2 separate regions of the Homo sapiens genome follow, and region 1 is linked to region 2. The links come from fine-mapping of genetic effects on gene expression. A gene starts in region 2. The other region holds a variant in brackets. All regions are shown on one strand. Distances are from middle to middle.

What was found. PIP is the estimated chance that this variant, and not a neighbour inherited with it, causes the effect.
Region 1: its variant is fine-mapped to the expression of GLRX3 in whole blood (INTERVAL, PIP above 0.99). The same link has a PIP of 0.9 or more in T cells.

The regions. Positions count from the first base shown.
Region 1 is chr10:130,186,689-130,189,590 of GRCh38, forward strand. It overlaps LOC124902561, which reads left to right. Exons shown (of 2, transcript XM_047426136.1): 2 at 1-2,902. Among named protein-coding and RNA genes, the nearest start is that of GLRX3, 52 kb to the left of the region's middle. The variant C/T (reference allele first, on the strand shown) is at 1,770.
Region 2 is chr10:130,135,311-130,138,212 of GRCh38, forward strand. It overlaps GLRX3 (glutaredoxin 3), which reads left to right and starts at 1,081. Exons shown (of 11, transcript NM_006541.5): 1 at 1,081-1,202. The coding sequence starts at 1,111. LOC105378561 (a long non-coding RNA gene) reads right to left here and starts at 1,061. Exons shown (of 6, transcript XR_001747659.2): 1 at 1-1,061. RefSeq lists a silencer at 1,063-1,662 and enhancers at 1,863-1,912, 2,191-2,826, 2,827-2,902.

The DNA.
Region 1 (2,902 bases), 51 kb after region 2:
TTTTGCCCTTAGGTCTGGAGGAAGGTTCCAGGGCATTTGCCCTTGGTGGGTGCAGGTAGGGAGGATCTGCGGGTCTTCCTCATGCCAGGAGTCTTATCCCAGAATCAAAGGCTCCTGGTGGGTAGGAGCGTGTCCCATGTGCAGCACGCTTGGCTGTCCGAAGTTGCTGATGAGAAGCAGCATAGGATCTGGCAGGGACGGTCCTGAGTGGAGAGGCTGAGATGGGAGGTGGTGGCCCACGGTTAGCGGGCTGGATTTTCTGGGGCAGCCTCCATGCCAGCATTTTGTCTTCATCCCGGAACCCTGTGCACTGAGGTGCAGGAAGCGTGTGTAGTTTCACACACTTAAGTGTAAGAAAGCATGTTCCTGTTGAAAATAACACCCCGCTGGGCATGCTGTGGGGTGACGGCAGGTTTTTGCCCTCCTCCTGCAGCTAAGCACTGGAGCCCTGGGTTCCCATCGGGGCTGTGGCACTGTGCTGTTTCCCGGGCCACTGCCAGGGAAGGAGCCTCCTATATTGCTGGGCAGGGCCTGCGTGCAGGTCCAGGTTTATAAATTTTAGAGCTTGTTCAGAAAGCAGGCAAAAAGTGCTGTTGGAGGTGCTAAGATATAAAGGTTTTTCCCCGGGTGTGTATTATTTGCTACTTAATATTCTAAAGAAAAATTAGAACATTAAGTTATTAACATGAATGTTTCTGCTTTTCTTTGCACTGTGTAGTGGCAATTTCAAATGCAAATATAAGAGCATTTAACTTGTGTGTGGGATACTTGAGCTGGCCCATCTATGTCTATCTCAGCTTCTGCCAGGATGCTGGAGGCACTGCACAAAAGGAAATGCTCTTGATCCATGCACATTCCCTCAGCGAATGCTGCCTTAAGGCTAAGGTTACCATGAGAGAGAAGGAGCTGTGGGTTGCCCTCTCATTGCCTGCCTTCTGTGTCATCTTCAGTGTGAGTAGTTGGCTAGTACAGGCAAGAGACAAGGCAGAGAGGATATGATGGCTTCCTCCGTCATCCGTGTTTCTTAGAATGCAATTGCTCTCTTTCTGGGCTGGAAGCAAGTTCTCATGTGATTGGAAAGCGTGGTGCCAGGGCTGTCAGCTCCAGCTGTCCTGTCGTAGCTGGTTACATGCTGATGTTGCCCTCGCCTTGAGTCTTGTCACCTCCGATGCTGAGGCCCACTGGAACGCTGCTTCTGGCGCATCGCGAACCCTGCATGTTAGCCGGGTGGCAAGGAGTAGCCAGTTCTCTGCTCACCCACATGCTCTGTGGTGCCCCTGCACTAACAGCACGAGTTCAGATAAAATTATTAAGAATTTCGAGATGACGAAAGCAGAACGTGAAACTGAGTGTGGTCCTTCTGAGTGCAGGGCCCCATGGGACCGCACAGGTGGCAGGCCTGGAAGGCCAGCCCTGCTTCAAGGAGTGTGGCTGAAGGAGGTCGGGGAACTCAGGCCCTGACCCCAGGGTTCTCCTTTCCCGGAGATTCTGTTAAAGGGCCACTCACCTTAGCCATGATCTTCTTTGAACTTGCTCCGAACTGCTCGCTAGAGAAACACACACCCGGTCACCTGTGACCCCTTGTTCTAGGTGCATTCCTGCAGGGACATACTCTCCACCTGATGCTGAAACCACCACAGCAAACAGGTGCTGTCATGAATAGTTGACATGTATTAAGTCATTTAATTCTCACCACAACCCTATGAGGTAGGCATCTTCAGCCCCATTTGACAGATGGGGAAACTGAGGCATGGGTGAAGCACACTGCT[C/T]CTGGTCATAGTACCTGTTGGACCTGGGATTTGACTCTGGGCCTCCTGGCTGCAGTTTGCCCTCTTAACCCCTATGAGGTGTGAGGAGTCAGTGAATTGGCTCCTGTGGCTTGGGAGGGAGACATGTTCCTCTGGGTGTCCAGGGACAGCACTGGGTGCAGGGTGGAGTGCTGGGCTGTGGATGGGCCCATATTGGTCCTAATGGTAGGCAGAGAGGGTGAGGAGGTGCCCAGGACCGGCTTTGCCAGAAGGAGAGAGAACGCTGGCACCACAGGAGCAGCCCACCGTGAAGGCCATGCCCTGCCCGAAGCGCGGTGCCTATTTAGAACCCGAGGGCCCCCCAGCACGATGGCGTTTTGGGGGTTATTTTTGTTGGTGGGGAAACAAGCTCAGGAATTTGCCAAAGCTCTTATCCAAGGGGCGAGTGGCTCAGCCAGGGTTCATTACCAGGCTCCGGATCCTGCTTCTCCCGGATCACAGCAAGCGCTGTGCTTAGGCCTGGGGTGGGGGACGGATTCTCCCTGAAGGCAGGTCTGACGCGGGCGGGAGCACCCACCCCGCTGGGTTCTTACGGCGGATCCGTTACCTGGGTCTCCAGAGGGTGAGGTCGCCGTGGGCACCCTGGGAGCAGCAGTTCAGATAGAAATCCTCCCATGCCGTGTGCAAACACTAAGTTTTTTGTTTTGTTTTGTTTTGTTTTTTTTGAGACAGAGTCTCGCTCTGTCGCCCAGGCTGGAGTGCAGTGGCGCGATCTCGGCTTACCGGAAGCTCCGCCTCCCGGGTTCACGCCATTCTCCTGCCTCAGCCTCCCGAGTAGCTGAGACTACAGGCGCCCGCCACCACGCCCGGCTAATTTTTTGTATTTTCAGTAGAGACCGGGTTTCACCCTGTTAGCCAGGATGGTCTCGATTTTCTGACCTCGAGATCTGCCCGCCTCGGCCTCCCAAAGTGCTGGGATTACAGGCGTGAGCCACCGCGTCCGGCCGCAAATACTGGAAGTTTTAAGTCAAGCGAACAAACATTAAACTGTTCTGTCCTCTTACCTTGACAAATACACCTACCAGTGACCGGGAAGGCTGCCTTGTGAATTTAGAAAGTCCTGGGTCTTGGCAGCTTCAGGGGACAGATCGCCC
Region 2 (2,902 bases):
GCTCTGTGGGGCTGCAATGAGTGGCGGCACGCGCGGAGGGCCAGGGGAGGAGGGACATGCTGTGGGCTCCGGGTTCAGGTCCCAGGACTGAATTGGAAGCACCCTGTCTGTGTTGAAGTTCAAGATCTACCACTTCTGTTCCCAGACCTCCCAGTTCTTCCTCACCTTTATGCAATTTCATTTTTGATAATTTCAGCTTCCTAAATGTACACATCTGACTTCACTTTCACTCACATGTCTCACCCCCACCCCTCCACCGGCCCCTTCTATTACAGACCCAGGAGACACAGGAAGTGCAAGGAAGGTCTGGAGCCCCAAAAGCCAGGAGCCTCAGGAGTCAGGTGTCCTGACAGCCAGGAACCCTGACACCCAGGAGCCCTGGCACCCAGGAACCCCAACAGCCAGAAGCCTCTACCACCAGGAGCCCTGACAGCAAGGAACCCCGACACCCAGGAGCCCCTACTACAGCCAGGAAGCCAGGAACCCTAACACCAGGAGCCCTGACACCCAGTCACCCCGACAGCCAGGAAGCCAACAGCAAGAAGCCTCTACCACCAGGAGCCCTGACAGCAAGGAACCCCGACACCCAGGAGCCCCTGCTATAGCCAGGAACCCTAACACCCAGGAGCCCCTACAGTCAGGAACCCCGACACCCAGGGGTCCCGACAGCCAGGAACCCCGACACCCAGGGGTCCCGACAGCCAGGGGCCATTACGGCCAGGAGCCCCGACAGCCAGGGACCTCGACGGCCAGAATCCACTACATCCAGAAGCCCTTATAACCGGGAACCTCCATAGCCAGGAGCCCCTACAGCCAGGAGCCCCTTCAGCCAGGGAGCCCCGAAAGCCAGGAGCCCCGACAGCCAGGAACCATAACAGCCATGAACCCCGGGAGCCAGGAGGCCCGCAGCGGAGTGCCCAGACTTGGCAGGGTCAGAGCCCCCCAGCGGGATCCAGAGCCCGCCGCCGAGGCCCCTTTTGGGATTTCTCAGGCTCGGCAGCCTCAGCGCAGGCAGGGGCGGGGCTTTCCCTCGCGCAGCCGCTCAGCTCCCCGTGGCCCCGCCCACATCCGGCCGCCGGCACTGGATTGCTTCTGTCTGGCGGCGGCAGCATGGCGGCGGGGGCGGCTGAGGCAGCTGTAGCGGCCGTGGAGGAGGTCGGCTCAGCCGGGCAGTTTGAGGAGCTGCTGCGCCTCAAAGCCAAGTAAGCGGGGCGGCGAGCGGTAGGAGTGAGGAGCCGGAGCGGGAGCGGCCGCGAGACCGGGCCGGTGTGGGGCGGCGGGTGGCCCAGCCTGGCTTCTTGGTGCCCGGCTCCCTTCGGCCTCGGGGGACCGGGCCCGGCGCCACCCGTAGACTCCCCCGAGCCTCCGCGTGAGTGGCCCGAGCCGCAGGTTCCCCGCCCCGGAACAGCGAGCAGGGCGCGAGGCTCGCCTGGAAGCCCCGGCCCCAGCCCTGGCTCCGACCCCGACGGCTGTCCAAGCCCGGGGGACGCGACCTTCCCGGCCTCTGGCCTGGGCGGCCCCGCCGCGGGACGGAGGCGGTGGTGACTCAGCCGTGCCGCAGTGGCGGGGCGGGGGACGGGGCGGCGCCGAGACCCCGGCCCTCCGCGCCACGGAGCGGGACCCACGGCTGCGGGCTCCACCTTTCCTGTGCCCGCCGGGAGGGAGCGGCAGGCTCGGCGTCGGCCCATTGCTCTTCAGCCTCCCTTCAGGAACGCCCCTGTCGCAGGAAGAGCGGCGAGGGAAGGCCCCGTTGCATTAGCTAGGCCTGGCTGCCTTTTGAAGTCAGCCTTTAAAGTTTGTTGGACAGCAGGTAGCCTCAGTCTTCAGACTTAACCTGTTGCCGGAGACAGAGATTTCCTGTTCCATGAACTGGTGTAGTGAGAGTCTGTTCAGATTTGGCGCCGGTGTCCAGGTCTTCAATCCCTGGGAAGACTACAAAAGGAGATCCAGAGGAATGCATAGAAAGCGTTTTCTGGGTGGACTAGAAGCTCTGAACTGCAAGCATGCTTACGAGTAAATGCTTACTAGCGTGCGTGCCTGCAGGGAAAGGTCTGCACGTGGACTCTCCGTGATAATACCACCTCACATTGTAGACTACTCCAAGGACTGAGTTGTTCTCTTAGTTGTATTATTAGCGGTTGTTATGGGAACTCTTATGTCGGATTGCCTGGGATCCAGTCCCACCGCAGCCACTCAGTAGCCATGTAACCCCTGGGCACGTTTCATGCCCAAGCCTCAGTTTCCCGACGGTGACATAGATTAGCACCTGTTAGTACCTCAGGGTTGTTGTGAGGGTTAAATGAGATGACGTATGTAAAATACAAATAATACAATGCCTAGTATGCAGGAAGCACTCAGTAGATGTTGGCACTTAGTATTTCAGTAGGAAGTAGAATGGTTCATGGAATTCACAGGCAAAAAGCTTTGTTTTGTTTTGTTTTTGAGACAGGGTCTGGCTCTGTCACCCAGGCTGCAGTGTAGTGGAGCGATCACGGCTCCCTGCAGCCTCCGCCTCCCAGGCTCAAGTGATCGACCCACCTCATCCTCCCGAGTAGCTGGGACCACAGGTGCTCACCACCACGCCCGTCTAATTTTTATTTTTTTTTATAGAGACGAGGTCTCGCCATGTTGCCCAGCCTCGTCTCGACCTTCTGGACTCGAGCGATCTGCCCTCCTCAGCCTCCCAAAGGGTTGGGATTACAGGTGTGAGCTACCACGTCCGGCCAGAAATGCTTATTGATCTAAATTTTGTTTTGTTTGTTTTCGAGACAGGCTGTTGCTCTGTTGCCCAGGCTGAGTGCAGTGGCGTGATCTCGGCTCACTGCAGCCTCTACCTCCTGGGTTCAAGCGATCCTCCCACCTCAGCCTCCTGAGTATCTGGGACTACACGTGCGGTCCACCA